Regions from separate parts of the Homo sapiens genome. Here region 2 is linked to region 1. Evidence: fine-mapped expression QTL. A gene starts in region 1. The other region holds a variant in brackets. All regions are shown on one strand. Distances are from middle to middle.

Region 1 (13,290 bases):
AGGTACAGCACACTGGTTAAGAGGAGGAACTTTGAAGAATATCTGAGTTCAAGTTTGGGCTTTGCCACATGCCAGCTGCAACTCCAGGTATTTAGTGTAACAGCAGGGCCTATCACGAGGTATTTAGAGGGAAGTGAGGTCATGATTGTCAGGTGCTTACCACATGTATGGCACACCGTAAGCACACAATAAATGTTAGCTGTTATTTAACCTGTTCTACCTCTCATCAGTTACCAGCTTCAGCTCTCTGATCTAGAGCCAGAATTTGCAAGGGCATAGCAGAGTGGAAAAGGTACAGCTTTAGCATTACACGTCCCAATTCCACTATTTTTTTTTTTTTTTTTGAGATAGGGTCTCGCTGTGTCACCCAGGCTGGAGTGCAGTAGTGTGATCACAGCTCACTGCAGCCTCGACCTCCTGGGTTCAAGTGATCTTTCTGCCTCAGCCTCTAAAGTAGCTGGCACTATAGGCAGGCACCACCACACCCAGTTAATTTTTTGCATTTTTTTTGTAGAGACGGAGTTTCACCATGTTGCCCAGGCTGGTCTCGAACTCCTGGAATCAAATGATCCACCTTCCTTGGCCTCTCAAAGTGTTGGAGGTAGAGGTTTGAGCCACCACGCCTGGACCAATTCTATTACTCTCAAGATGTACAACCTTGGAAAGATTATAAGACTAGCCTGTCCCATCTATAAAATGGGAATAGCATCCCATACTTTATAGGGTCAACAGAAGCATAAGAAGAAATGTTATTCAAAACCACACCTGGGGGCCAGACACAGTGACTCATGCCTATAATTCCAGCACTTTGGGAAGCTGAGGCGGGCGGATCACTTGAGGTCAGGAGTTCAAGACCAGCCTGGCCAACATGGCAAAACTCCACCTCTACTAAAAATACAAAAATTGGCTGGGTGTGGTGGCACATACCTGTAATCCCAGCTACTCGGAAGGCTGAGGCACAAGAATTGCTTGAACCCGGGAGGTGGAGGTTGCAGTGAGCCGAGATCACACCACTGCATTCCAGCCTGGGCGACAGAACAAGACTCTGTCTCAAAAAAAAAACAAAAACAAAACACCATGCCTGGCATATAGGAGGCACTTAATAATTATTTTTCTCATCTCTCCAGAGTACGAGATGATAGGGAGGCAAAGAGGAAGGAAGACAGAGGCAGGGATCAGGACAGGGCATAGGTAGAAGAGGTGGGGGCAGCATCTCAGCCACCCTCTCCAGGCCATGGGCCCAGGCAGCGCTCCTTGCCCCTGCCCAAGCATCTCTGAGTGGATGTCACCTGGACCGAGCTGCCCTCTCACAGCCCTCACCTGCTTGTTGGCCACCACGACGACAGGCAGGTCAGGGTCCTTGTCCAGCAGCTTGTGCAGCTCCTGTCGGGCCCAGGGCAGCCGCAGTCGGTCAGCCGAGTCCACCACAAACACCAGCACATCCACCTCGCTCACAAACTCCTTCCAGTAGAAGCGCAGGTTCTGGCTGCCCCCAACTGAGGAGAGGCCAGGGGCCAGCTCAGAGCCTCCCGGGCCCCCGCTCACTGCCCACAGCCCCCACCCCACCCCGGGCCCCCGCTCACTGCCCACAGCCCCCACCCCACCCCGGGCCCCCGCTCACTGCCCACAGCCCCCACCCCACCCTGCTTCTAGCTTAGTGAGCTTCCACCAGCCGGGGGCAAGGAAAAGACCGCAGTTTCCGCAGCTACTCAGACTGGATTTAGCTCTAGCTCTGATAGGCGGGTCTCTTGGGGCAAGTCCCTAGCTTTAAGCACCAGTCTCCTCACTGAACTTTCCTAACGGGTTGTTGCAGTAAAACCCACAGGTACCACGTGCGATGTACCTTTCACGGGACTGACACACAGGTGCTCAGTAAATGGAAGTCTTCAGTTCTCTCCCCTGGGTTGTCTGGCTTTGCCTCTTGCTAATTCCTAGCTTTCTCCTACAGGTTCAAAACTGTCAGTGATGGCTGTGACAGGAGCCAGGAGTCCTATTGTCTAGAAAACTCAGGACCCCCTGCCCTGCCTATACACAGCCATTCTCCATTCAGTTTCCCCCATCCCCTTCTTTTCCCTTGGAAATGTCATATTTCATCCTATGAACACATGGTTGCCAACACAGTCCCCCAGCCTGGATCACCTTTCTTTTCCTCTCTGCTCCTCTGCACAGTCCCATTGGTCACCCCGCACCCTAGTGTTTCTGGCTATGTTTCTGACACTTGAGGATTCTAAGCTGTGAGAGTCAGAGGCACTTACCTCTGAATCCCCACAAAGCCCTCAGCACAATGCCTGGCACATAGCAGGCACTCAACAAATATTTACTGAGTGCTTGCTAGGTGCCAAGCACTGATCTGGGTGCTGCAGATACAGAGGTGAGCAAGGCAAGCAGGGGCCCTGCACCAAGGAGCTCCCTCCCTAACTGGGAAGGACATGGCAATGACATCAACACATTTCAAAAAGGAAAGAAATAAAACAGAAAAAAGGGAAAGTGGCTGAGGTGGAACAGGGGTTGGCCCTGGATTGGGTGGTCTGGGTAGGTCTCATCAAGGAAGTGGCATGTGAGCTGAGTGGGATGATGAGAAGGAGCCAGCCATGGGAAGAGGCAGAGGAAAGCATTCCAGACAGAGGGGAGAGCATGCTGGAAGTGTCTGGGAAACAGAAAGAAGGCTGGGGTGCTGAGGCACTGCAAGAAGGAGAAAGAGATGGCTGTGAGGCTGGCTGGGGCGGGCCACATGGGGCCAAAGACCACAGTGAGGGGGTGGGGAGCCCCCCAAGGGCTTTAAGCAAGAGTGACATTACCTGACATGGGTTTTCTCTAGCTGACACTAGGGACAGAAGGGGAAGCAGGAAGACCAAAGAGGAGGCTGTGGTGCTGAGAGGAAAGATGACACTAGTTTGGGCCAGACAGGCAATAGTGGAGGAGGGTGTGCCACTGCCCACTGCCATTCCAGCCTGGGCGACAGAGACCCTGTCTCCAAAAAAAAAAAACTAGAATGGTGGGGTGCGATGGCTTACGCCTGTAATCCCAGCACTTTGGGAGGTCGAAGCGGGCAGATCACTTGAGGTCAGGAGTTCAAGACTAGCCTGACCAATGTGGTGAAACCCCCGTCTCTACTAAAAATACAAAAATTAGCCGGGCGTGGTGGCGGGCGCCTGTAATCCCAGCTGCTCAGGAGGCTGAAGCTGGAGAATCGCTTGAACCCGGGAGGAGGAGGTTGCAGTGAGCCGAGACAGCGCCATTGCACTCCAGCCTGGGTGTCACAGTGAGACTCCATCTCAAAAAAAAAAAAAAAAAAAAAAAGACTAGAAAGGTGGGTGACCTTGGATTCATGATACTACTGCTGGAACTCATTTTCCTCTGGAGATAACGAGGGTAGTGACCGATTCTAGTTTTATGTAATTGTTTAGGGGAGTTTTCTTAAGCAATGCCCGTCAAGTGCTTGGCATATGAACCCTTAGCTGTTAGTATCTCTGTGTTAGGCCTATCGACTTTGGTAGGGGTGATGGGGCAGGCGGTGCAGCTGGAGAGGCCCGATCACGAAGGGCCCTAAATGTCAGAGCACAGAGCGTGGGCTGAATCCTGTGCCCCGGAGAGCGGTGGGAAGGATTCGTAGAGGGGAATGTGCTGCTTAGACATGCATTTTGGAAGCCCCCTTCCCTGCAGAGAATCCAGGACTGGTCCAGTAGAGGAGACGGGGAGATGGGGTAGGGTGTCCGCTCACTTTCTAGCAGGTCCACCTCAAAGTCCTTGGTGGGCAGACGCACGGAGTTGAAGCCCCAGGTGGGGATGTGGCCTTCCAGCGGTGGCTTCCCCGACAACACGCGCAGGAACGTGCTCTTGCCTGCGCCATCCAGCCCCAGCACCAGCACCTCGCGCTGTTCCAGCTCCTCCAGCGCCGGCTCCTCGTCCTCCTCGTCCTCGGGCTGCGGGGAAGCGGAGGTAAGGTTGCGGCTGGCGGCCTCCCGAAGGACCTTTCCCGAGGGAAGACCGAAGGCACCAGAGGGCCCAGGCCCGCCTTCCACCCGTCCTGGGACAGGCAGGCATGGTCTGGATGAGTGGGACGAACGCCGCCTTTGCAGTCCTGAATTCCAAACCCTTGGCGAATTCCTTAAACGCTCGCGCGCCCCGCTTCCTCCACCGGTCTCGGAGTCCCGACCGCAGGCGGGAGGGGATGGGGTTTCTCCCGACATCCCCACCCCCGGGCGGGGTGCACTGCGCAGGCGCCGGAGGGGCGCGAGCCGACCCGGCTGGGCCCCGGGATGCTCCCGAGCCGCGCCCTCCAAACTCCGGCCCCCGCTGGAACACCCGAGCCTCATGGCGTGGAGCGACGGCGTGGCGCCAAGGCGCCGCACGCACCCAAGCACACCCACCCGTTCCTCGGTTCCCGGGCTCTGACCGCCCACCCGCGCGGGGCCTGTGCGCTGCGGCTGCCAAGCCCTCGACCCCCCAAGCTCCCGGCACCAGCAGGGCCGTTCCGTGGTCACACCCCTTGGCCACATGCGCGGAGTCGCAGCCCAGCCTGCCCGCCCTTCCGCAGGCCTCGGCCCGGCACTCACGTCCCACTCGTCCCACTCGGGGAGGCGGGCAGCCTCCGCGCCCCACCAGGCCTCTCCCCGGTCCCAGCGCCGCTCTCGGCCGCGGCCGAAGTAGGTCTTCCAGAGGATGAAGAGCACCGAGCCCAGCACCGCCGCGGCGCCGCCCAGCGCCAGCACCAAGGGGCCCAGCGGCCGCGGCGCCATCGGGCCGGGCGAGGGACGCAGGTGCGGGTTGCACAGGCCGAGCCCACTCGCCCGCCGAAGATGGCCCCGCTGCGACTGCTGCGGCCGCGCCCACCCACCCAGACCCAGTCCCGCACTACAAGCCCCACAATGCACTGCCGCTGTCACGGCAGGCCGCCCGGGACCCGGCGGCGTGGGTGGTGGGGCGCTGGCCGGCGCGCGGGGACCTCCGGTCCCCCTGCCAGGTGCAGGGTGGAGGAAGGAGAGGCTGTGCCTGGGGAGGACGGGAGACGGCGGTGCTTGCTAGCATCCACCAGGGGTTAGCTCACGGCTTTTCTCCGTTACCCCTTACAATGATACCACGCAGAAGGGAAAACCGAGGCCCAGGAGTTAAGTAACCCGCCCAACGCCGCATCGTAGTGCTTTGGTGTAGCCTGCGTTCAAACCCAAGCGATCTGTCTCCCGGTCATCCCTCAAGACCTCGGGAGGAAATTGAAGCAAGACGCCCGATATCACACGGCAGTGGGGTGGCAGAGGCAGGAATAGAACCCAGGTCCGTGGCTCCCCGCCACCTCTAGCCTTCTTTCGCTGCCTCCCGGACCACAGGGGTTTTGCTGGGGTCCTGGTCAGGCTGAATTAAGCAGTGTCAGGACTTCAGAATGTTTAGGGCTGACTGCCTTGTCCTAGGTACCCCCAGTGACTGCCAAGGCTTCCACGTGTGTAGCACGAGGAGGAAGAACAGGAGAAACGACCTGAGTACAGCAGTCGGGTTCTTTTGGCTCTCCAGAGGGGTGACGCCATGTACGGCTGGCTGTAGGGTACATGGGTCGAGAGACCGCCTGTGGCTCTCAGGGCCCAGCAGGGCTACCTCTTCCCCTTTATATTGTCTCAACTCTTCACCTCCTTTTAGTTTGCGATTCCTCTGTACCCCTGGCTCTGGGTCCCAGCCCCTATTCCTTCTGATTTGTCCCCCTTTCCCTTTGACTACATATATATGCTCCTCTCCTCCCAGATAGTGATGTTTTAGCTACATCTTATTTCTTCCGGCATTGATTCTTTTGAAAAATTTATTTCTGGCCGGGTGTGGTGGCTCATGCCTGTAATCCCAGCACTTTGGGAGGCCGAGGCAGGCGGATCACCTGAGGTCAGGAGTTCGAGAATAGCCTGCCTAACATGGTGAAACCCCATCTCTACAAAAATTAGCCGGGCGTGGTGGCACGTGCCTGTAATCCCACCTACTCAGGAGGCTAAGGCAGGAGAATCGCTTGAACCCAGGAGGAGGAGGTTGCAGTGTGCTGAGATTGCGCCACTGCCCTCCAGCCTGGGTGACAGAGCAAGAATCCGTCTCAAAAAAAAAAAAAAAGAAAAAAAAATTAGCTCCTCCTCAAAAATACACCCACTTAGAGGGGAAAACCCACAAAATTGCTAAGATTAAAAGTTTGGCTGGTGCGGTGGCTCACGCCTGTGATCCCAGCACTTTGGGAGGCCGAGGCAGCCGGCCGGATCACGAGGTCAGGAGATCGAGACCATCCTGGCTAACACGGTGAAACCCCATCTCTACTGAAAATCCAAAAAATTAGCCGGGCGTGGAGCCGGGCGTGGTGGCAGGCGCCTGTAGTCCCAGCTACTTGGTAGACTGAGGCAGGAGAATCGCTTGAAACTGGGAGGCAGAGGTTACTGTGAGCCGAGATTGCGCCACTGCATTCCAGCCTGGGCAACAGAGCGAGACCTTGTCTCAAAAAAAAAAAAAAAAAAAATGTTTACAGTCTATTATTTGTGGAAAAGAAATAGGTGCTCTCACATAGGTGCTATGCACCAAGACCATGACAGCTTCAGACATTGGTACCACAAATATCAGGGATAAAGTTTTTTTTTTTTTTGAGATGGAGTCTCACTCTGTAGCCCAGGCTGGAGTGCAGTAGTGTGATCTCAGGCCTCCCAAAGTGCTGGGATTACAGGCATGAGCCACCACACCCAGCCAGAAATAAATTTTTCAAAAGAATCAATGCCGGAAGAAATAAGATGTAGCTAAAACATCACTATCTGGGAGGAGAGGAGCATATATATGTAGTCAAAGGGAAAGGGGGACAAATCAGAAGGAATAGGGGCTGGGACCCAGAGCCAGGGGTACAGAGGAATCGCGAACTAAAAGGAGGTGAAGAGTTGAGACAATATAAAGGGAAAGAGGTAGCCCTGCTGGGCCCTGAGAGCCACAGGCGGTCTCTCAACCCATGTACCCTACAGCCAGCCGTACATGGCGTCACCCCTCTGGAGAGCCAAAAGAACCCGACTGCTGTACTCAGGTCGTTTCTCCTGTTCTTCCTCCTCGTGCTACACACGTGGAAGCCTTGGCAGTCACTGGGGGTACCTAGGACAAGGCAGACTGCAGCCTCCGTCTCCCAGGTTCAAGAGATTCTCCTGCCTCAGTCTCCAGAATAGCTGGGATTACAGGCACCTGTCACTACGCCTGGCTGATTTTTGTATTTTAGTAGAGACGGGGTTTCGCCGTGTTGGCCAGGATGGTCTCGAACGCCTCAGCCTCTGAAAGTGTTGGGATTACAGGCCTGAACCACCGTGCCCAGCCAGAAAAAGTTGTTTTAATCAAATAGTAACTTCCAGGAAAGTCTTAAGTTTTCATGTATTTGTGGCTAAGAAATAAATGAGATGATCCCACCTTATGATCTACATAAGGGTGCAAAGTGCTATTTCTTCCTTTTCTGACTGAGAGGTGATATACATCCCTTCCTGTGGTGGATAAAGAGCAAGGTGCCAGCTTTGCTTCCACAGAGGTTAAAAAATATGGCATATTTTAAAAGCTCCAAATTAACAAAGGAACACCTTTAACACACACACGCACGCACACATATACACACAATTATACTGCAATGTAATTGTGCTGTTGATAAGCTAATTATAGAATTCATCAAAGACTTTAATTCTTAGTGCACTCAAGCACCCTGGTCTGGAAACAGCGCTTAAGTTTCAAGTCGCATGAGCAAGGCCTCTCAGTTCTGCCAGTACGGCTGGAAGCCTCAAATGCTGAAATCTAAATGTGACATTCACCCTGCACCACCAATCATAGCTCTCCTGAGATGAGTTTTGATGGCGAGCTTTGGACTGGGGTAGAAACGTGGATAGATTTTTGCAAATTCTGCTGTAACTTCGTTGCTTCGCCTTCTTTGTGAACCCTTCAGGGATAAGAGAAGTCTTCCTTCAGGATGTGACTGACACCTCAGCTGGCGCCTCTAAGCCTCACTCTCCTTTATGTAAAAGAGAAATGATATTAGGATCGCCTTCCCTAGGGGAGGCAGGTGAGGTCGGTTCCCTTTTTTGGTTCAGCTACTAGTACGAACCCTGCCTAACCCCGCTGTTTTGGGAGACAGTCCGTGCTCACTGCACCGCTTGCTAATCGAAGTGACTTCTCATCTCTCCCAGTCTCAGCTTCACCTCCGTGAAGTGGGAAAAACAGGATGACAAGTGCTCGCACTTGGCAGCCCTTTTTGAGCCTTGAGGGCTTGGGTTTGTGGGTGTCATTTTACTATGCTACCTCCGTCTTCCCTTAGCTTGTCACGGACCCAGGCACAGCACACGCGCTGAGGAAGTGGTGGTGAAGTGTGGCGTTTCCTCTCGGGGCTGGCGGATTCCACACTCGGAGCTGCGGCTCCACAACTCGCTGGGCGGCGAAGGGCATGGGGAGGGGGCGGGTCTCGCGATCGTGGACAACAACTCCCAGCATGCCCTGTGCTCCGCTGGGCCAAGTCTCGCGCGAGATCCCGCGGTCTCCGGAGGCTTTATCTGCAGTGCTGCCTGCCCGCTGGGTGGTACTGCTACCTAGTGGGTCTTGGGGACCTTCGAAATCGCCGCCGCTCTCACAATGGCTTGGGTCCAGACTGCGCCACAGCCTCTCGGGAGACGTGGGCCCTCGGAACCTTTTTAGTGCCGGACTCCGGGCCGCAGGCAGTCCCGCGGCAGCAGGATCACAGGTGAACAGATGGCGGGCCTGGGCCCTCCCTTGGGGCTGCGTTCTCTGGCGATCAGGAGGGGCGCTTCCGGCGAGGCCCGATCTCGGGGCCCCTCCAAGCCACTCCCCTCTCCCCGCACCTCTTAACCCTTCATCCCGGCTTCGAGCTCGGCTGGGTCGCCTCTTGCCTCCCTGGCTCCGCTCTCTGGGGTCTCCGTAATGGGGCTTCTCTCCGGGAATGCCCTGCAGCTCCCGTACGGGCTTCCCCTCCGCTTCGTGGGACCAGCCCAGCCCGAGCCCCCGCGGCTTGTCCTCAACCTCATCTCCCCACACCCCGCCTTCGGCTAGGGTCCTGGCCCTAATCTTAGCCTGGAGGGGTGGGTGAAGCAGCCGGCCTTTCGTATCCTGGCGGCACCGTCTTGTATATTGTGAAGGAGAGGCAGAGGGACGGTGAGCTGGGGGGTGGGGGCACAGGGAAAGGGAAAGGGGAAGGGGACGTGTCTGGGGCGGGAATGCTCCCTGGACTGGGAGGATGGCTGAATTCGGCCTTTGCGATGCTCGTTAGTGAAGAACTATCAATAACTTGTTTGCTCTGTCTGAGTCCTATCGGGATAGAGGGACGGTGTAGCAAGCTGAAAAACAAGAGTAACTTTCTCAGGCCCTCGTTTTAACTCCCCTGTAAACTGGGCATGAAACTACCTACCTTGCGCACGGACCACTTATCTGTGACCGTGGACAAATTTACTTAACTCCTCTGATTTTTAGTTTCCTTCTCTTTATTATTATTTTTAACATTTTTTTAATTTTTTTAATTTTTATTTTTGAGACCGAGTCTCACTCCGTCGCCCAGGCTGGAGTACAGTGGCTCGATCTCGGCTCACTGCAACCTCCGCCTCCCGGGTTCAAGCTATTCTCCTGCCTCAGCCTCCCGAGTAGCTGGGATTACAGGCGCCCGCCACCATGCCCGGCTAATTTTTGTATTTTTAGTAGAGATGGGGTTTCACCATGTTGGCCAGGCTAGTCTCGAACTCCTGACCTCAAGTGATCTGCCCGCCTGGGTCTCGCAAAATGCTGGGATTACAGGCGTGAGCCACCGCACCCGGCCAGTTTCCTTCTCTTTAAATTTGGGATAGCCTTTCTGTAAGAGATAGCTTAAAAAAAAAACTGGGGTCGGGCGCGGTGGCTCACGCTTGTAATCCTAGCACTTTGGGAGGCCGAGGTGGGCGGATCGCAAGGTCAGGAGATCAAGACCATCCTGGCTAGTGCGGTGAAACCCCATCTCTACTAAAAATACAAAAAATTAGCCAGGCGTGGTGGCAGACGCCTGTAGTCCCAGCTACTTGGGAGGCTAAGGCAGGAGAATGGCGTGAACCCGGGAGGTGGAGCTTGCAGTGAGCCAAGATCGCGCCACTGCACTCCAGCCTGGGCGACAGAGTGAGACTCCGTCTCAAAAAAAAAAAAAAAAAAAAATTGGGATTGGGATAAATAATATCTGCTTTGCCATCTTGCTGCAAGGATTAAAAGACAAGATAAACGCTGTAAATAGTTTATAGTGTTAGCTATAAAGAACAAATTTCCCTACTGTAGTATCTAGCCGCTTGCTGTGAGTTAAGAAAATGAAATGAGCAAGGTTGTTGTGGGGAATAAACAAGTGTTTGGCAGACTCTGACGGGCTGTTCCAATGCTGGCTGTTTGTTGTTATTAGAACCTCTGGATGGACTCTTCCTGGGAAGCTTTGCTACTTTGCAGCAGCTGGACCATGTTCCTCATTAACATCTGTCTGTCCGCTTAGTCATCACATCATTTCACTGTGGTAAGGTGACTTTTTCACCATGTATGGCATCTTAGCTCTGTCATCTCACAGGTGTTAAGATCAGCCACAGGTGTGGTGAGACGTTTGACTTTATCCTTCTTTTTTCATTGGCATGTTTGTCACCCACTGGCTCTTGCATGTGTGTTTCAACCTTGTAAACAAGCCGTTCAATTCTGTGTGCCTGCCAGAAGAACAGCATTGGTGCTGCTCACCATAAGAAAATGCCCTTTGTTATTTTATTAGGTGGCAGGGACTCAGCTCGGAATTCTGTATAGAAAAAGCACCTGGATCCCAGTCTTTCAATGGCTTCAAGACAACCAGAAGTGCCTGGTAAACTTAATTCTTTTTGGTAAAATCATGTTTTGCCCTTATTAATGTTTTAAGCTAGACAGAAACCATTTTATCGGAACTATATATTAATGGTTAATCTCTGCTACCAAGCGAGTATTTAGATTTACTAGATTGGCTTATTTTATTTTATTTTATTTTTTTGAGATGGAGTCTTGCTCTGTTGCCCAGGCTGGAGTGCAGCGGCACAATCTCGGCTCACTGCTACCTCCGCTTCCTGGGTTCAAGCCATTCTCCTGCCTCAGCCTCCCCAGTAGCTGGGATTACAGGTGCCCGCCACCACACCCAGCTAATTTTTGTATTTTTTGTAGAGACGGGGTTTCACCATATTGGCCAGGCTGGTCTGGAACTCCTGACCTTTTTTTTTTTTTTTTTTTTTGAGACAGAGTCTTGCTCTGTCGCCCAGGCTGGAGTGCAGTGGCGCGATCTCAGCTCACTGCAAGCTCCGCCTCCCGGGTTCACACCATTCTCCTGCCTCAGCCTCCCGAGTAGCTGGGACTACAGGCGCCCACCACCATGCCCAGCTAATTTTTTGTATTTTTAGTAGAGACGAGGTTTCACCGTGTTAGCCAGGATGGTCTCGATTTCTTGACCTTGTGATCCGCCCGCCTCGGCCTCCCAAGGTAATGGGATTACAGGCGTGAGCCACCGTGCCCGGCGGAACTCCTGACCTTGTGATCTGCCTGCCTCGGCCTCCCAAAGTGTTGGGATTACAGGTGTGAGCCACCACGCCCAGCCAGTTTTATTTTATTTTTGAGTCTCACTCTGCTGCCCAGGCTAGAATACAGTGGTGTGATCTCAGCTCACTGCAACCTCCGCCTCCTGGGCTCAAGTGATTCTCCTGCCTCAGCCTCGAGTAGCTGGGATTACAGCTGCCTGCCACCACGCCCGGCTAATTTTTGTATTTTTAATAGAGACAGGGTTTCTCCATGTTGGCCAGGCTGGTCTCAAACTCCTGACCTCAGGTGATCCTTCCACCTTGGCCTCCCAAAGTGCTGGGATTACAGGTGTGAGCCACCACGCCTAGCCTTAGATTGGCATCATTTAAATATTTTATTAGCCGCTCAGCCATAGTATGAAACTTTAACTTAAAGAGAATAGTCACTTCATTTAAGGGTATTATGACAAGTTTGTTACTTTCCTAGTTATCAAATAATAATTCAGAATAAGTTGTGCAGTTCTTGTAGTATGTACCAAAGTGATTAAACTCACCTTTTTGGGGGTGATGGGGAGGTGGGATGGAAGTCTTGGTAAAAAGGCACCAGCCTGCTTAAATGGCAGATTGAACTTAATCATGAAAATGCTCACAGCAACCCTTAATGAGTCAAGTTCTGGGTTATTGACACCATTGATGACTACTTGAATTGTTTTATGAGAAAGGAAAGTGATTTTTAATTACATCTGAATCGCTTAATTTCTGATTCTCGGTAAAGTATGATGATGAAGAAAGATGATGGTTCCTATCTCTCGGGGTTGTGAAGATTAAACAAAATATGTAAAAACAGGAGTTAAAAATCAGTGATAAATATGTATTTACTGCCCAGAATGCATTTGGTCTGTCTTTATATGAACATATTTTCCAGTAAATACTAGCTGACTTTATTTGTTTTAGGATGGCTGTTCAGTGGGAGTCTTTAAGATGTTTTTGAAATTGCTCCCCAAGTCTCCCGTATTCCCCAATATAGATCCATCTCTAGTCTTAACATCATCAGCTCCGTTTTAGTTTGTCTTTCATTGTTGCTGTGATTACCACAAACTCCGTGTAGCCGTCGCGAGCCATAGGATTGTGCCCATTCAGTGAATGCTTTGTAGTGTGTTGCATGCAGAGTGTGTGCACCGGCTCAGGTCTGTGTTCCAGTTCCCAGCACACTCTTTCAAGCTAGGTGATATTGGGCAAGTTGATTGTGAAAATGGAAAATTTGAAAATGGGAAGAATATCTGCTTCATGAGGATTAGATAAGATGAGGGATGTAATTGTCTAGCAAGGAGGAAGACTTAGTAATTATTATTTGCTTGTGTGTGTGTTTGAGATGTAATGCACATATCATAAAATTCACCCACTGAAAGTGAACAATGTCGTGATTTTTAGTATATTCACAGGGTTGTGCAAACAACACTACGATCAATTGCAGCACATTTTCTTTTCTTTTCTTTTTTTTTTTGAGATGGAATCTCGCTCTGTTGCCTAGGTTGGAATGCAGTGGCACGATCTTGGCTCTCTGCAACCTCCGCCTCCTGGGTTCAAGCAATTCTCCTGCCTCAGTCTCCCAAGTAGCTGGGACTACAGGCACGTACCACCACGCCTGGCTAATTTTTGTATTTTGAGTAGAGATGGGATTTCACCATGTTGGCTAGGCCGGAACGCCTGACCTCAGGTGATCCACCCACATCAGCCTCCCAAAGTGCTGGGATTACAGGTGTGAGCCACCACACCCATCCAAACTGCAGTA
Region 2 (15,991 bases), 25 kb after region 1:
TGTTGTCTTGAACACTGTCTCAAATACCTGCTTTTTGTTTTGGATAGTACCTTGTCTGTATAAGAAGCTGGCCTTTCCATAGAGAGGCCCTGGAGTCTAAAATTATGAGAACAATTAATTTATTTGTGTCTTCTATTATGATCTCGTTTTGACAATAAAAATCCTTACTACTTTCTCAAATGTGGCTATTTTTTTGTCCTTTTAACAATAGTTATTCCACTCTACCCACCCAGAGTCACACTGAACTTGGTATTTTGAAAAACCATTGCCTTTTTATTGTCTCCTTTTAACATCAAATGTTTTATAACACACTTGATCCTTTTGTTTCTACCCCCTATTCATTACAGTCAAATTAACAGGCAATATAATAGGTCTAACAGAATGCTTGCATTTCATTAGGGAAAAATGAACGTCTCTCTCCTGAAACAGGTTGTCGGTACCTTGAATGACATAATATTGGTGTATAGACTAGGTTCAGCAGAGGGATTTTTTCCACATCTTGAATGAAAATGTTAAACATGTGATGCACAGAGTATTAACCTGTTTCAAAAAAGTATAGATAAATAATTTATTAAAAAATATATATACCTTGTATATTTAAGCCATATTTGAGAACAGGCTAGGATAGGATTATTTAAAAAAAGATATTTACTAGAGTTAGAAATTACAACCTACTGATTAAATAATGCAGGTTTGGTCCTGTAAGATTTTAACCACTTTTCATGCTTTTAGAGCTTCTGAGCAGTTGGAGAGAGAGTTCAGGAGGTATTCTTGGCATTCAGTGCTTGGCAGGCCCTCAGGAGCCGCTCCAGCCCTTTTGAAAGGGCTCTGCATCAGGGTTCAAGTCCGCAGCATAGAAGAGCAGGAGCTTCAACAAGTGCACTTTGTCTTGGAGTTGGGGGACAAGAGGCTCCCCCAGCATCTGGATCAGGCGGCTGCGGAAGGCCTCAATCTGCTTCTCTACGTCTACCACTGTGATGTCATCTCCTTGCTGGGGTTTGGGCTTAATCCTTTTGATTATTAAGTCCTTTCGGTCGATCACGGAACTCCTTAAGTGTTCTGCAAGAGGGAAAAAAGTCAGTTGGGTGCTCTGAACTGCTTTTTAATTCTTTTTAAGAAGTCTAATTTTGGTAGGTAGAGTCTTGGCAAAGACTTGCTGACTAGCTACAGGGATACAAGTCGAAGGCTGTGTGAGTGCCTGCAGTAACTCCACTTCCAAAAGGCCCTTTGTTCTCAGTTCTCTCGGGTCCTTAAGAAGTTTTACATTAAAAAAAGTGATATGGTTTGGATCTGTGTCATTTTTTATGATCACATAACATGGTCAAAAAATGAAAATACTGAGGAAACAATTAGACATATTCATCTAGTCCATGTTTTAGCCAATAGTATTTAACATGAGTATGATCATGAATAAACAACTAGACAGTCCCAAATTGTAATCCCTGATGTTGGAGGTGGGGCCTGGTGGGGGTGATTTCTCATGAATGGTTGAGCACCATCCCCTTGGTGCTGTTCTAGTGATGGTGAGTTATCATGAGGTCTGGTGGTTTAAAGTGTTTACGTAGCACCTCCTCACTCTTTATTCTGCTGTGGCCACGTAAAACGTGTCTGCTTCCCCTTGAGCCACGATTGTGTTTCCTGAGGCCTCACTGGAAGCAAAGGCCACTATGCCTCCTGTACAGCCTGTAGAACTGTGAGCCAACTAAACTTTTCTTTATAAATTACCCAGTCTCAGGTGTGTGTGTGTGTGTGTGTGTGTGTGTGTGTGTGTGTATACTCCTGACCTCAAGTGATCCGCAAGCCTCGGCCTCCCAAAGTGCTGGGATTACAGGTGTGAGCCACCGTGCCTGGCCTACTCCATGTTCTTGTCAACAGTATTTAACATGAGTGTGATCACGAGTAAGCAATTAAACATCCCAATCATAGGACATGTACAAAATAACTGGCCTGGACTCTTAAAAAATGTCTATTATGAAAGACAAGTAAAAGCTGGGAACTGTGCTGGACTAAAGGAGACCAAAGAGTATGACTGCCAAGTACAGTGCTTCATATTTGACCGTATCCTGGCTCAATCTAAAATCAACTACCTAAAAAGTATATTACTGGGACACTATTAGATAATATTCTATCAAGAACAAGTTTCATGGCAGGCTGTGGTGGCTCATGCCTGTCATACCAGTGCTTTGGGAGGCGGAGATGGGCAGATCACCTGAGGTCAGGAGTTTGAGACCAGCCTGGCCAACATGGTGAAACCCTGTCTCTACTAAAAATACAAAAAAATTAGCTGGGCATGGTGGTGCATGCCTGTAATCCCAGCTACTCGGAAGCCTGAGGGTGGGAGAATTGCTTGAACCCGGGAGGTGGAGGTTGTAGTGAGCCAAGATCACACCACTGCACTCCAGCCTGGACGACAGAGCTAGACTCCGTCTCAAAAAAAACAAAACAAAACAAAACAAAAAAACAAAAAAAGAAAAGTTTCGTGAGTGTGATAATGCACAGTGGTATGAAGTACAATATCCTTACGCTTAGGAGATACATGCTGAACATGCTGAAGTACTTAAGCAATACAATTATGATGGCGCACTTATCAACTGTTTCAGAAAAAATGGTATATACATGGATCAATAGGTAAACCAAATGTGTCAAAATCTTAGAAGCTAATGAATCAGCGTAAACGGTATATATATGGGCATTCGTTATACTATTCTTTCTACTTTTCCGTAGGTCTAAAAATGAAAATAGGAAAACAAAAAGTTATAAAGGTATCTCATCCCAAATCTACAGGCCAGCCCCAATAGATTCTAGAAGTGTGTGGAATTGAGGCAAATGAGCAGAAGGTCACATTAGGCAAATGTATTGAGAGAGTTCTGGGGACTTGAAGACTTCCAGTTGCACATAAGTACACCATCATTTCTCAGTCTCCTCATTTATCAAACGGGGATGATGGCACTTTCACTAACAGTTATTAAAAGGACTGAGCTACACTGTATCCAGATTTAGGACACAGAACAAATCATTTTAAGTGGTATATCAGGTTACATTTTAAGCGGTTTATCAGGTTACATTTTCAAGTAATACATTCAATATGTTTTTTCTCAACCTTCAGATAAAATGATGGAAAAGCAAAATCTCTCAAAACTAAAGTCTGTAATCTGTGAAGAAGTACAGTAAGTATACAACAGCATGTTCAAAAAGTCTGGAAACACAGGAAACAAAGCTGCCTTGAGATGGAAGTGCAAGGCCCTTTCAACCTTCAAACAGCACACATTTACTGAGCACCTACTGCATATCAGGAACTGGCTAGAGTCTGGGGACACAGTGGAATTTAGAGCCTTGGGCCCAGTCCTTGTGGACTGATATTCTAGTTGCAGGAAGCCTGATGATAAGTTAGTCAACAATATTGATTATAGTTTGTGGCAAATGCAATCAAATAAATAAATCAGATGCTGTGATAAACAGTAACACTGAGGGGAATAAGGGAAGCAGCCCACTCTAGCCACGGAGGGTCTGTGAGCTGAGTATTGACGGATGAGGAGGCAACCATGCAAAGGTCAAAGGGAAAAGCAGTCCATGGAGAACAGCAATAGCAAATGTCCTGAGGAAAAGCATGCTTAGAGAACAAGACAGAAAATCAGGGTAGGAAGCCTTCTGCCGTGGTAAGACGCAGCAAGAAGTCCTTCCCGGGTGCAGCCCCTCGACCTTGGACTTCCCAGCCTCTGGAACTGGGTGGAAGCACTGGGGATGCATATACCACGTTAATGGCATCCATGGAAGGCAATGAAAATTACATTTGATACTTAAAGTGTTTCAGCTAACATAAGGTAATGACTTTATAAATCGAGAAACTTAAAAAAATCAGAGTAATAAAAGGGAGACAAGTACTAGATGAGATTGGAAGGTAGGGTAGGCCACATTATAATGTGGAGTTTGGCCTTTGAGAGCAAACAGGGTATCTATAGACTTAGAGGGTTGTAAATAGGGAAATATGAGCTGTTTTATTTGAGACTAGTTAGGAATTGTCTTAGGAAGAGCCTTTTTGTAGACTTTGATTTTCTTAAGGCATGTGCCACTCTGAAAAATACAAAAATGATTTTGAAAGAAGTGGAAAAAAAGTTGACTGAATAGGGTGGGACAGGGGAAACTTAGAGGGCAAGCAAGAAGAATGTGGAGTTTATTAAATCATGCAGGAAAGTTAAAGAAGCAAATGTTAGCAGTGCCCATCTCAGCACTGTCTATGGGGGAGGAAACCCTGGCCAGTGGACTTCAGCCCTGCTGGTCTAGTCAACAAGGCCTTGGATTTTATGCTTCGGTAGGGATAAGAGTTGTTATGTCAGAGGTTGCTGATTACTGTATGAGGACATTTAGCATTGAAAAGGGTTTGAGCCATAATGCCTGGCTCAAGATATTTCAGCTGATAGTATTGTTAGTAGTTTTGGATCAATACAAGAGTTAATTATTATTTCATCATCATCATCATCATCATCATCATCACTATAGGAATCTCCTACCTAATATGTCAAACCTGAGCTCTTCATCTTCTTTGCAGATCTTTCTCCATATCAGTAATGGCAGAACCCTGGGAGTCACCCTTCAGACTCAGTCACTTAAGAGCCCTGTCAAAGTTATCTTCAAAGTGCTTCTGTCCCATCCACTGCCTTCTCCACTGTCCTTCTGTCCTTGCCACACCCTTGTCACCATTACCCCTCCCCTGGCCCCTCTGGCCCTCTGCCAAATGATTCGCTACACATCAGGTAGAGCAGCCTTTAAATTTGCAGATCTGATCATGACACTCCCTTACTTGGAACCAACCACTTTGATGGCTTCACTCTGTTATTAGAACCAGCTGAATTTCCTTAGCATGGCCAAGATGGCCCTTCACAACCTCCTCCATGGACTATTCTAGTCTCATTTAGTGTTATTCTCCCCTTACTCACTACATCCTTGCCCTGCTAGCTTGTTCTATGTTCCTTGGACTCACTAAGCATCTTTTTGCCTCAAGGCCCTTGGACATTCAGTGCCTTCTTTCTGGAAAACTCTTGTCTCCCCATTTGCCTGGCTAACACCATTACTTCATGTCTTTTATTTATTTCTTTTTGAGATGGAGTCTTGCTCTGCTGCCCAGGCTGGAGTGCAGTGGCACGATCTCAGCTCACTGCAACCTCTGCCTCCCGGGTTCAACCAATTCTCCTGCCTCAGCCTCCCAAGCAGCTGGGATTACAGGCACCCACCACCACGCCTGGCTAATTTTTGTATTTTTAGTAGAGATGGGGATCTGCCATGTTGGCCAGGCTGGTCTTGAACTCCTGACCTCAGGTGATCCATCCACCTCAGCATCCCAAAGTGTTAGGATTACAGGGGTGAGCCCTTGCGCCCCGCCTACTTAATGTCTTAGATGAGGTATCACTTCTTCAGGGAGGCCTTCCTGGATCCCTCCAAAAATAGATTTTGTGCACTTGTACTTCCTTCATAGCATTTACTCTATGTAACTATAGGTTACTTGTATCATTATTCATTTAGGATCAATCTCTCCACTAAACAGTAAGCTCTGTGAGGGCAGATGCCATGCTGGTCTTATTCATTAAGGTTTTCCCAGTGAGCACAGAGGACAGAGAGGACATTCAGTAGATATCTGTTGCCTGGATAAATATATGAATTGAACTGATCCTACCTGCTTCTGCTTTTCCCCGTCCGTGGACAGGGCTCCTTGCAGGGAGACCGTGTGTGTGACTGGCCTCAGAATGACTGTGACTGACTTCTGCAAGCTATGCTGGCCAGATAAGCAGGATTCAGGAAAAGCATGCATTTGTTCATTGAAATATTATATGTTCAAATCCCTAGAATTCATACTCATAAACTCCATGACAGGCAGCACTTTGTAATTTTGCTGAGGCTGAAACTTGAGCCACATGGCTATGCAACTGGGGTGGGGGGGATTGATTCTCTCGGCCAAAGAACAAGAACATGAGCTCAATTGACAGCCCAGAATCCGTGTCTCTGACAGACCTGTTTGAATCCTAGCTCTGCATTTGCTTTTCTCTCAGCCTTTGTTTTCCCATCTATAACAGGGGGTGATACCTTCACAAGGTTTTTGGATTATATAAACCAGTGCAGGTGAATTTACCTAATCTCTTTTCCTTTCTTCCTCCATGCTGAGAGTTCCCCTAAACAAAAGGAAAGCTTGGGCTCTCTAATCCCTTCCCTTCTTCTCCCACTCTTGCAGCTAGACAACTAGTGGAGCTAGACAACTCAGACTGATCTCAAAATGCCCTCAACAACATCCACAGACCACTCGCAGAAGGCAGAGATGAGACGAAGGGCCCTCACAGTAAGATGCTTACTGACTGACAAGGACGCTGACTATTGCTGGGTACCATTCGGCTGTGTTCTTTGCAGGACAATGTTTTCAAACTACTAGTGCTAATTTTCCTCCTTCCTAACTCTTGGACCCCAAAGAAGCTGGAACAAACATTTAAGGATAAAACAGCACTGCAACACACCCCATTTATTCTTGGTCAATATATACTGGTTTGAGGCCTTTCTCTCTCTTATCAAAACATAAAAAATATTCTGTAATAAAAGTAGATTCCGTTTCCACCTTAAGTCATTATTGCCCATGATAGGTGTATTCCCCGGGAATCAAAATAGAAAGGAACAAGAAATGTTAAAGGTGAACTTTAAAACAAGCTGTTAATATTAACCTTTCTGGTAATCTCCAAAACAATTACATAAGCCTCACTGAGGGTAAGAACACATGGAACTTGCCTTCGGGTCTTTGTTTGGAGAAGGACATGCACCTTTCTTTGAGGGTGCTACAAATGCACAAACTGCACAACCACATATCATGCATGGACTGGACAACATACTCTTTTATTTTTTTTGAGACAGAGTCTCACTCTGTCGCCAGGGCTGGAGTGTAGTGGTACGATCTTGGCTCACTGCAACCTCCACCTCCCGGGTTCAAATGATTCTCCTGCCTCAGCCTCCTGAGTAGCTGGGATTACAAGACCCCGCCACTATACCCAGCTAATTTTTTTGTATTTTTAGTAGAGACGGGGTTTCACCATGTTGGTCAGGCTGGCCTCGAACTCCTGACCTTGTGATTCGCCCGCCTCGGCCTCCCAAAGTGCTGGGATTACAGGCGTGAGCCACCATGCCTGGCCGACAATGTACTCTTTTAAGTGTGAGTTACAACAGTCTGAAACACAGAGAAGACCCTTAGCCTACCTCTGCCCAGGGACGCAGGAAGACAGATTCAATGAACATTAAACACATTACTTTTTTCACTCATTAATAATCCTTGCAAGTTACATACTATCATCCCCATTCTATAGAAGGAAGAAACCGAGGCCTAGAGACACAGTTAGCTGCCCAACACTGAGTAAATGGTGAAGTTCGGATTTAAACTCAGACTTTCTGTCTTAAATCCAGTACTTTTTTTTTTTTTTTAAAGTCTCTACAACAGCTTTCTCAATTCCTGGCCTGAGAGGGTCTGAGAGCTATCTTACTTTCCCAAGTGCCATTACTGAGTTAAAATAAACATAAATATGATCATGGGCAGGTGTATTTCACTTGTATACTTTTTTCCCTCACTATTTGGGAATAAGTTGCAGACACTATACCCCTCTACCCCTCAATACTTCAGTATGGATTTCCTAAGGCCAAGGACATTTACTATCATAATCCAGTATGATTATCAAAAATAGGGAATTTAATATGGACACAATAATGTTATCTAATCTACTAAAGTTTTACCAATTGTCCGAACAATGTACTACAGCCTTGCCCTGCTAGTTTGTTCTATGTTCCTTGGACTCACACTAAGCAACTTAGTGTGTCCTAGAGCCTCAAGGCTCTAGGACATGCTGTTCTTTCTTTCTGGAAAACTCTCGTCTCCCCATTTATGACTTCTTTTCTCCTGTTCAGGATCCAGCCTAGGGTCATGCCTTGTATGTAGTATTTATGTGCTTTAGTTTCTTTTAAATGTGGAAGAGTATCTCAGTCTGTCTTTGTTTTTAAAACACTGGCACTTTAAAAAAGTACAGGTCAGTTATTTTATAAAAGGTCACTCAATCTGGTTTTGTCTGAAGTGTCCTGGCCATTGGATCCAGGTCATGAACTTTTGGCAAGAACATTACATACATGATGATGCATCCTTCTCCGTCAATCACATCCAGGAAGAATGCCAGGTTTCTCCCCTAGCAAGTTACTATTTTTCCTCTAGTAATTAATAATTCATCAGTTCTTCAGTTTCCCCACAGGCCTCATTAATCCTTGGCTAATAAAATCATTCTCATTTGAAGCAGCTATTCCATCATTATCCTGGTCAACATTTACCTTCTGAGGGTTACCTGGTCTAACTCTCCTACATCGTCATTGGTCACTGGCTTCACCTGTGACCCAAGCAGCTCTGAAGAGCCACTTTCATAGACTTAGAGTACCTTACATCTTCTGCAAGATGTACATGTTCACCTTGCTCCTGATTTGCTCTGTACTTACATTGTATTGACGGATGTTTACAATGTTTACAATGTCCACAGTCAGTGAGCAAAGATGCTGCAGTGACAGGCCAAGGGAGGATGCCAGGGGTCTTCAGGCATTCCTGAGTCCTTCTCAGGTTCTGATGACTTCTCTTTTTTTCC[G/A]CCCCCCTTGAGACAGGGTCTCACTCTGTTGCCCAGGCTGGAATGCAGTGGCATGATCTTGGCTCACTGCAACCTCTGCCTCCTGGGTTCAAATGATTCTCCTGCTTCAACCTCCTGAGTAGCTGGGAGTACAGGCATACACCACCACGCCTGGCTAATTTTTGTATTTTTAGTAGAGACAGGGTTTCACCATGTTGGCCAGGCTGGAGGTTCTGATGACTTCTGCTTACCTACACAATCTTACAACTATGAGGACCATGTATTGTCGGCCATAACAAGAATATGTGAATTCTTTTCACAGTGGTGACTCCGGCTATGTCATTTCTTATCCCTTATAATAAGTTACATACAACCAAGGAACAATGTCAACAAATCAGAATATCCTGTGTAGTTATGACTAATACAAATGTCCATTGAGACCTTCCACTACTCCACTTGTGAACAAATGCTCCTTACCTCTTAAAACATGTTGATAACTGGACAGCAGAAACTGCAGATGCTCAACCAATTCGTCCCAAGTCTGCCACTGGCTTTTATCTGACTGCAGAGATAGTAAAATGGATTGATAATAAATGCCTTCCCCAGTTAAAATTTTTGTACAGTTTTCAATTCACCTTTACAGAATGCTCAAACAGTTGTGTTTTAAGCTAAAATCCTATGGGAAGGGTTCGGGCCTAGAGCAAAGAGAGGTGCTCTAGGCCTGAAATTGGGCAGGAAAAAATGTACCTGACACTTGAGCAGTGACGTAGAATTATTCAGAAAGTAGAGGGCCTGGGCCAGAGACAGAGGCAGGCGGGTGGGTGTCTCACAGCTGTGGAGGAATATGATTTCTAACACTTTGCAGCGCAGAAGGTGGCTTTCCATGGTAGTAAAGAACATTTCTCTGTGTGGAGAAGAGGAAGAGGGAGTTAATCATCACAACTATGCTTCAAAGAACATGAGCCACAATTCACCCTGAATGTACAACATTTGTCCTAAAAAAGACAGTTAAGAAGGAATACCATGGAAGCCCACAGAATCACAAAACCTGTGGACAGGGTAGAAATGGGTTTGTTGGATTAGCAACTGCTAGAATGAGGAAAAAGTCTTTCACATTTGACAAAGACAAGTTTAGGACACATTAAAAATAATTACTACACATTGTCACTATGAAAATTAATCATGAGAATATTTCTGAATGCCAATGATGTGCCAAATACTATTTGGCACAACAAGGAATATTAAGATAAATAAAAGGAACCACTCTCAAAAAGCTGATAGTTGAACAGGGGCAAGGGGTATGCAAAAGGAACTTTAAAAAGTGCAGGGCAAGTGTACTTGTATGCAAAGTGCTAGTGGTGCTCCAGAGATACACAGAAGAGAGCACATTTGGGGACTGGAAGTGGCCTTCCTATGGAGGCAGAAGCACTGGTGAGAGTGGTCTACGAGGGGCAAAAAAGGCTCAACGCAGGAGGTATTTCTCTCTTTCTTTCTCTTGCTTTCTAATCTCTCTCTCTCTCTCTCTCTCCCCCTCCCTGCCTCCCTCCCTCTCCCTTCATCCCTCACCCCACCCCTGCCTTTCTGACAGGTCTCACTCTGTCATCCAGGCTGGAGTGCAGTGGTGTGATCATCACACACTGCAGCTTCAATCTCTTGGGCTCAAAGTGATCCTCTGACCTCAGCCTCCCAAGTAGCTGGAACTACAGGAGTGTGCCACTGTCCCTGGCTAATTATTATTTTTTTTGTAGAGATGCGGTCTCACTATGTTGTCAGGGCTGGCCTCAAACTCCTGGGCTCAAGCAATCTTCCCACCCTGGCCTCCCAAAGTGTTGGGATTACAGGCGTGAGCCACTGTGTCTGGCCATAGTATTTTTTTATTTGAAACTATTTTCTCTTCTAATTTTTGTGCCAGGGCTTGCTTTATAATCTGCAGATGGTAAACTCAGAGATCTACAAAGGACAAGGACATAATTTCAATATATGGAACACAGTAGGAACTGTACGTAGAATTACCTAGAGCAATTCAAATTAAAAATTTAAAAACAAGGCCGGGCGTGGTGGCTCATGCCTGTAATCCTAGCACTTTGGGAGGCCGAGGCGGGTGGACTGCCTGAGCTCAGGAGTTCGAGACCAGTCTGGGCAAAAACGGTGATACCCTGTCTCTACTAAAACACAAAAAATTAGCCAGGCGTGGTGGTGTGCACCTGTAGTCCCAGCTACTTGGGAGGCTGAGGCAGGAGAATCGCTTGAACCTGGGAGGCCGAGGTTGCAGTGAGCCAAGACTGCACCACTGCAATCCAGCCTGGGCAACACAGCGAGACTCAATCTAAAAAAAAAAAAAAAAAAAAAAGATACAAAGAAAGGCCAACATCTAGATCCAGCCTCAACACAGTAACTGATGTTGGACTTTCCTTTCTGTCATAATCAATGATAAAACCAGAGGAAATATAGAAAACAACCATTTTCAGGCATTAGAGAACTTACTACAAAGGACTGTGATGATTATTATTATTATTTTTTTTTTTTTGAGACAGAGTTTCGCTCTTTTGCCCAGGCTGGAGTGAAGTGGCCTGATCTCAGCTCACTGCAACCTCCACCCCCACCCCCCGGGTTCAAGCAATTCTCCTACCTCAGCCTCCTGAGCCGCTGGGATTATAGGCACCCACCACCATGCCCAGCTAATTTTTGTATTTTTAGTAGAGACATGTTTCACCATGTTGGCCAGGCTGGTCTCGAACTCCTGACCTCAGGTGATCCACCCCAACTGCCTCCCAAAATGCTAGGATTATAGGCATGAGCCACTGTGCCCTGCAGGACTGTGATTCTTGAGAGAAGAGAAACAAAGGTGGTAAACTTCATGTACTCCAGATTTCTTGCTGGGGGCACTTTCTAATGAAGGCAGAGGAAGGTGTGGGTCTAAAATAGAAGAGAGGGGGCTTCTTGGGCAGACAAAACAGAGGCTGGAGTTTAGGACAGCTGAGGTGTCTAGAATTTGTGTCAGAGAATAGGGTGCTCAGGAAATGTGTGTAAGGGAACCTGTTGGCACATGTGTAGGGGAAGCCCCAAAAGCCTGGTGGAGAACAGCTACTGGGGGGTTGCAAGCTGGCTGGGAATTCTGGAGATCTCAGAGTGCTGAAAGATACTGGTGTTTCAAGGAGTCAGTGTGGAGAGATCTCACTGAATATCCTGGACATTCAGTTGAGACCCCAGAAAGATTAAGCCTCAAGAATGTAGCTCCTTAATAAGGGCTGCTGTGGAACCAACCTCACAAATCCTAGAAACAAGCCTCAACAGGAAAAAGCTAATCTGCCAGCAAATTAACTGCCTGCCAGAATAAAAGTCAATACTCTTTAAAGAAAGAGAGCAAAATCCAGACTCTCAACAATGTAGTGCCCACAATGTCCAGAACACAATAAAAATTACCAGACAAGTAAAAAAAGCAGGAAGATGTAATTCATAACCAGGAGCAAATGTCCATAGAAACAGACCAAGAGGTGACATACATGTTGGAATTAGTTGTGAGGGGCTTTTAGACAACTATTATAAATATGTTCAAGATTTTCAAAAGCAAGCAAGTAAATTAAGATGTACATAATGAGTGACTAGATGAAGACTTGCAGCAAAAAGAATAAAAAGGAACCAAATGTTAACTCTAGTTCCAAAAAAAAAAAACCAATAATAGACTTAACAGCAGATTGGGCACTGGGGGAATTAAAAAAATGGATTTTAAAGACTATTGAGAGAGAAAGAGAGAAAACAAAATAAATGAAACTAAACAGCAATAGAAAAAAACAGAGCCTCAGTGATCTGTGGAACAGATCTATATGTACACTTAGATTCCCAGAAGATAAGAGAGGTTGGGGCAAAAAAAAAAATATTAAAAATCTGTATTTAGGCCAGGTACAGTGGCTCACACCTGTAATCCCAGCACTCTGGGAGGCCCAGGTGGGGGAATCAACTGAGGTCAGGAGTTCAAGACCAGCCTGGCCAACACGGTGAAACCCCGTCTCTACTAAAAATACAAAAATTAGCTGGGCGTGGTGGTGCGCACCTGTCATCTCAGCTACTTGGGAGGGTGAGACAGGAGAATCACTTGAGCCTTGGGAGGCAGAGGTTGCGGTGAGCTTAGATTGCACCACTGGACTCCAGTCTGGGCGACAGAGTGAGACCCTATCTCAAACAAAACACAACAAAACACCAAAAAAACCCCACAACCTGGATGAATCACCAGGGAATTATGCTGAGTGAAAAAAAGCCAGTCCCAAAAGGTTATATACCAAATGATTCCATTTATATCATTTTCTTTTTCTTTTTATGTTTGAGATGGACTCTTGCTCTGTCGCCCAGGCTGGAGTGCAGTGGTGCAATCTTGGCTCACTGCAACCTCTGCCTCCTGTGTTCAAGTGATTCTCCTGTCTCACCCTCCCAAGTAGCTGAGATGACAGGTGCGCACCACCACGCCCAGCTAATTTTTGTATTTTTAGTAGAGACGGGGTTTCACCGTGTTGGCCAGGCTGGTCTTGAACTCCTGACATCAAGTGATCTGCCCACCTTGGCCTCCCAAAGTGCTGGGATTATAGGCGTGAGCCATTGTGCCTAGGCCATTTATATCACATTCTTGAAATGACACAAATATAAAAAATGGAAAACAGATTAATGGTTGAAAGGGGTTAAGAAAGGGGTTGGGATGGGAGGGAAGTGGGTGTGGCTATAAAAAGGCAAGAAGAGCAATCCTTGAAGTGATGGAAATGTTCTATATCTTGGCTTATGTCAATCACAATATCCTGGTTGTGATACTGTACTATAGTTTTGTAATATATTACCATTGGGGGAAATTGGAAAAAGATTATCTGGGTTGTCTCTGAACTCTTTAATAATTTTAATATTGAATAAAGTTTATATTTATTTTTATCCAATAATATGTAATATTGAATACAATATTTATCTAATACTATTTAATATTTAACATTCCTTAAAATTGCATGTGAATTTACAATTATGTCAAAATAAGATTTTAATCTAAAAATAAACTAAGGCCAGGCACGGTGGCTCATGTCTGTAATCCCAGCACTGTGGGAGGCTGAGGCGGGTGGATAACCTGAGGTCGGGAGTTCGAGACTAGCCTGACCAACACGGAGAAACCCCGTCTCTACTAAAAATGCAAAGTTAGCCGGGTCTGGTGGCGCATGCCTGTAATCCCAGCTACTTGGGAGGCTGAGGCAGGAGAATCTCTTGAACCCGGGAGGCGGAGGTTGTGGTGAGCTGAGATCGTGCCATTGCACTCCAGTCTAGGCAACAAAAGCAAAACTCTGTCTCAAAAAACAAGCAAACAAACAAAAACAAACAAAAAGATTTTAATTTAAAAAAGAGAACTAAAAGCCAACAGGAGAGATAAAATGGAATAATAGAAAATCTTCAATCAATCCAAAAGCCAGAAGAGGAAGAAAGAACAAACAGGAAACAAATAGTCAGATTACAGGTATAAAACCAATACTTATATTAAAGAGCAGGAATTTTCAGCTGGCTAAAACAACAAATGCCAACTATATACTGTTTACAATAAACATAACCTTTTTTCTTATCTTTTTGTATTGACAATTTCAGACATACTGAATTGCAAGAATAATGCAAAGTTTGTGTTTGTTTGTTTTTTTTTTTAGACAGTCTTGCTCTGTTGCCCAGGCTGGAGTGCAGTGGCACAATCTTGGCTCACTGCAGCCTCGGCCTCCTGGGTTCAAGCGATTCTCCTGCCTCAGCCTCCTGAGTAGCTGAGATTACAGGCGCCCGCCACCACACCTGGCTAATTTTTGTATTTTTAGTAGAGATGGAGTTTCACCATGCTGGCCAAGCTGGTCTTGAACTCCTGACCTCAGCTGATTCGCCCACCTTGGCCTCCCAAAGTGCTAGGATCACAGGCATGAGCCAACTGCATCTGGCCTACCACATCTTCTTTATCCATCTGTCTGTCTGTTTTTCTTTGAATTATCTGAGAGTAAGTTGCAGACATAGGGCTGGGTGCAGTGGCTCATGCCTGCAATCCCAGCACTTTGGGAGGCCAAGGTGGGTGGATCACTTGAGGACAGGAGTTCGAGACCAGCCTGGCCAACATGGTGAAACCCTTTCCCTACTAAAAATATAAAAATTAGCAGGGCATGGTGGGGGCACCTGTAATCCCAGCTACTCAGAAGGCTGAGGCAGGAGAATTGCTTTACATTGCTTTGTCTTTCATGATACTGACTTTTTTTTTTTTTTTTTAGACAGAGTCTCGCTCTGTCGCCCAGGCTGGAGTGCAGTGGCGCGATCGCGGCTCACTGCAAGCTCCGCCTCCTGGGTTCACGCCATTCTCCTGCCTCAGCCTCCCGAGTAGCTGGGACTACAGGGGCCTGCCACCATGCCTGGCTAATTTTCTGTATTTTTAGTAGAGACGGGGTTTCACTGTGTTAGCCAGGATGGTATTGATCTCCTGACCTCGTGATCCACCCGCCTTGGCCTCCCAAAGTGGATACTGACATTTTTGAAAAGCACATGCCAGTTTTTTTCAAGGAACATCTCTCATTTGACATTAGGCTGAACTTTTCCCATGAATGGATGAAGGTTATACATTTTTGGCAGTACTGAAAAAATGGTGTTTTGTTGTTCTCAATGCCTTGTATAAAAAGGCACATGACATCAATTTGTCCCATTGTTGGTGTGAACTTTGATCACTTGACTATGGTAGTGTCTCCATTGTAAAGTTGCTATTTTTCCCTTTGTAATAAATAAGTATCTTGTGGGAACATACTTAGAGACCATGCAAATATCTTGTTACTCCACAATCTTTCACCATGTTAGTATCCATTCACGTCTGAATATTATGATGGTTGCCAAACAGTATTTCTGCCTAATTCATCATTTTTTCTAACATTAGTTGGCTTTTTACTGTAAGAAAGGGGGTCCCGTCTCTTTCTTCCTATCAGCACTGGAATCACAGATTCCTATTTTATTCAACAGATAATATTATTTTACTGTCAATATTCATTTTGGAGCTCAAATTATTCCAGATTTGGTCACTGAAAGCCCCTTTAAGCTGACTCCTGTGTCTTTTGACATGTTCTGAATAGTCTTTGAATATTTCCTTACTTTGTGGCACAAGATGTTCCAGGCTCATCTTGTACTTTACCTAACACAGTTCTGGAGTTAGTCATTCCTTCAAGGAATTCTGGTTCCCTTTTTTTTTTTTTTTTGAGATGGAGACTTGCTCTGTTGCCCAGGCTGGAGTGGAGTGGTGCGATCTCAGCTCACTGCAACCTCCACCTCCTGATTTCAAGCGATTCTCCTGCCTCAGGCTTCCAAGTAGCTGAGATAACAGGCGTATGCTACCATGCCCAGCTAAT

Evidence for each region. PIP is the estimated chance that this variant, and not a neighbour inherited with it, causes the effect.
Region 2: its variant is the best candidate, but not a certain one, in a credible set for the expression of KIAA1191 in whole blood (INTERVAL, PIP 0.55).

What each region holds. Positions count from the first base shown.
Region 1 is chr5:176,357,013-176,370,302 of GRCh38, reverse strand. KIAA1191 reads left to right here and starts at 8,539. Exons shown (of 9, transcript NM_020444.5): 1 at 8,539-8,701; 2 at 10,385-10,492; 3 at 10,736-10,822. The coding sequence starts at 10,795. ARL10 (ARF like GTPase 10) reads right to left here and starts at 4,816. Exons shown (of 4, transcript NM_173664.6): 1 at 4,557-4,816; 2 at 3,722-3,923; 3 at 1,321-1,496. The coding sequence starts at 4,739. It overlaps MIR1271 (microRNA 1271), which reads right to left and starts at 2,357; the gene lies at 2,272-2,357. RefSeq lists a silencer at 4,562-4,951 and enhancers at 5,102-5,351, 8,464-8,783.
Region 2 is chr5:176,330,251-176,346,241 of GRCh38, reverse strand. It overlaps SIMC1 (SUMO interacting motifs containing 1), which reads right to left. Exons shown (of 10, transcript NM_001308195.2): 8 at 9,366-9,522; 9 at 9,096-9,180; 10 at 253-1,059. The coding sequence ends at 797. It overlaps KIAA1191, which reads left to right. Exons shown (of 9, transcript NM_020444.5): 9 at 1-180. Among named protein-coding and RNA genes, the nearest start is that of KIAA1191, 24 kb to the left of the region's middle. The variant G/A (reference allele first, on the strand shown) is at 8,640.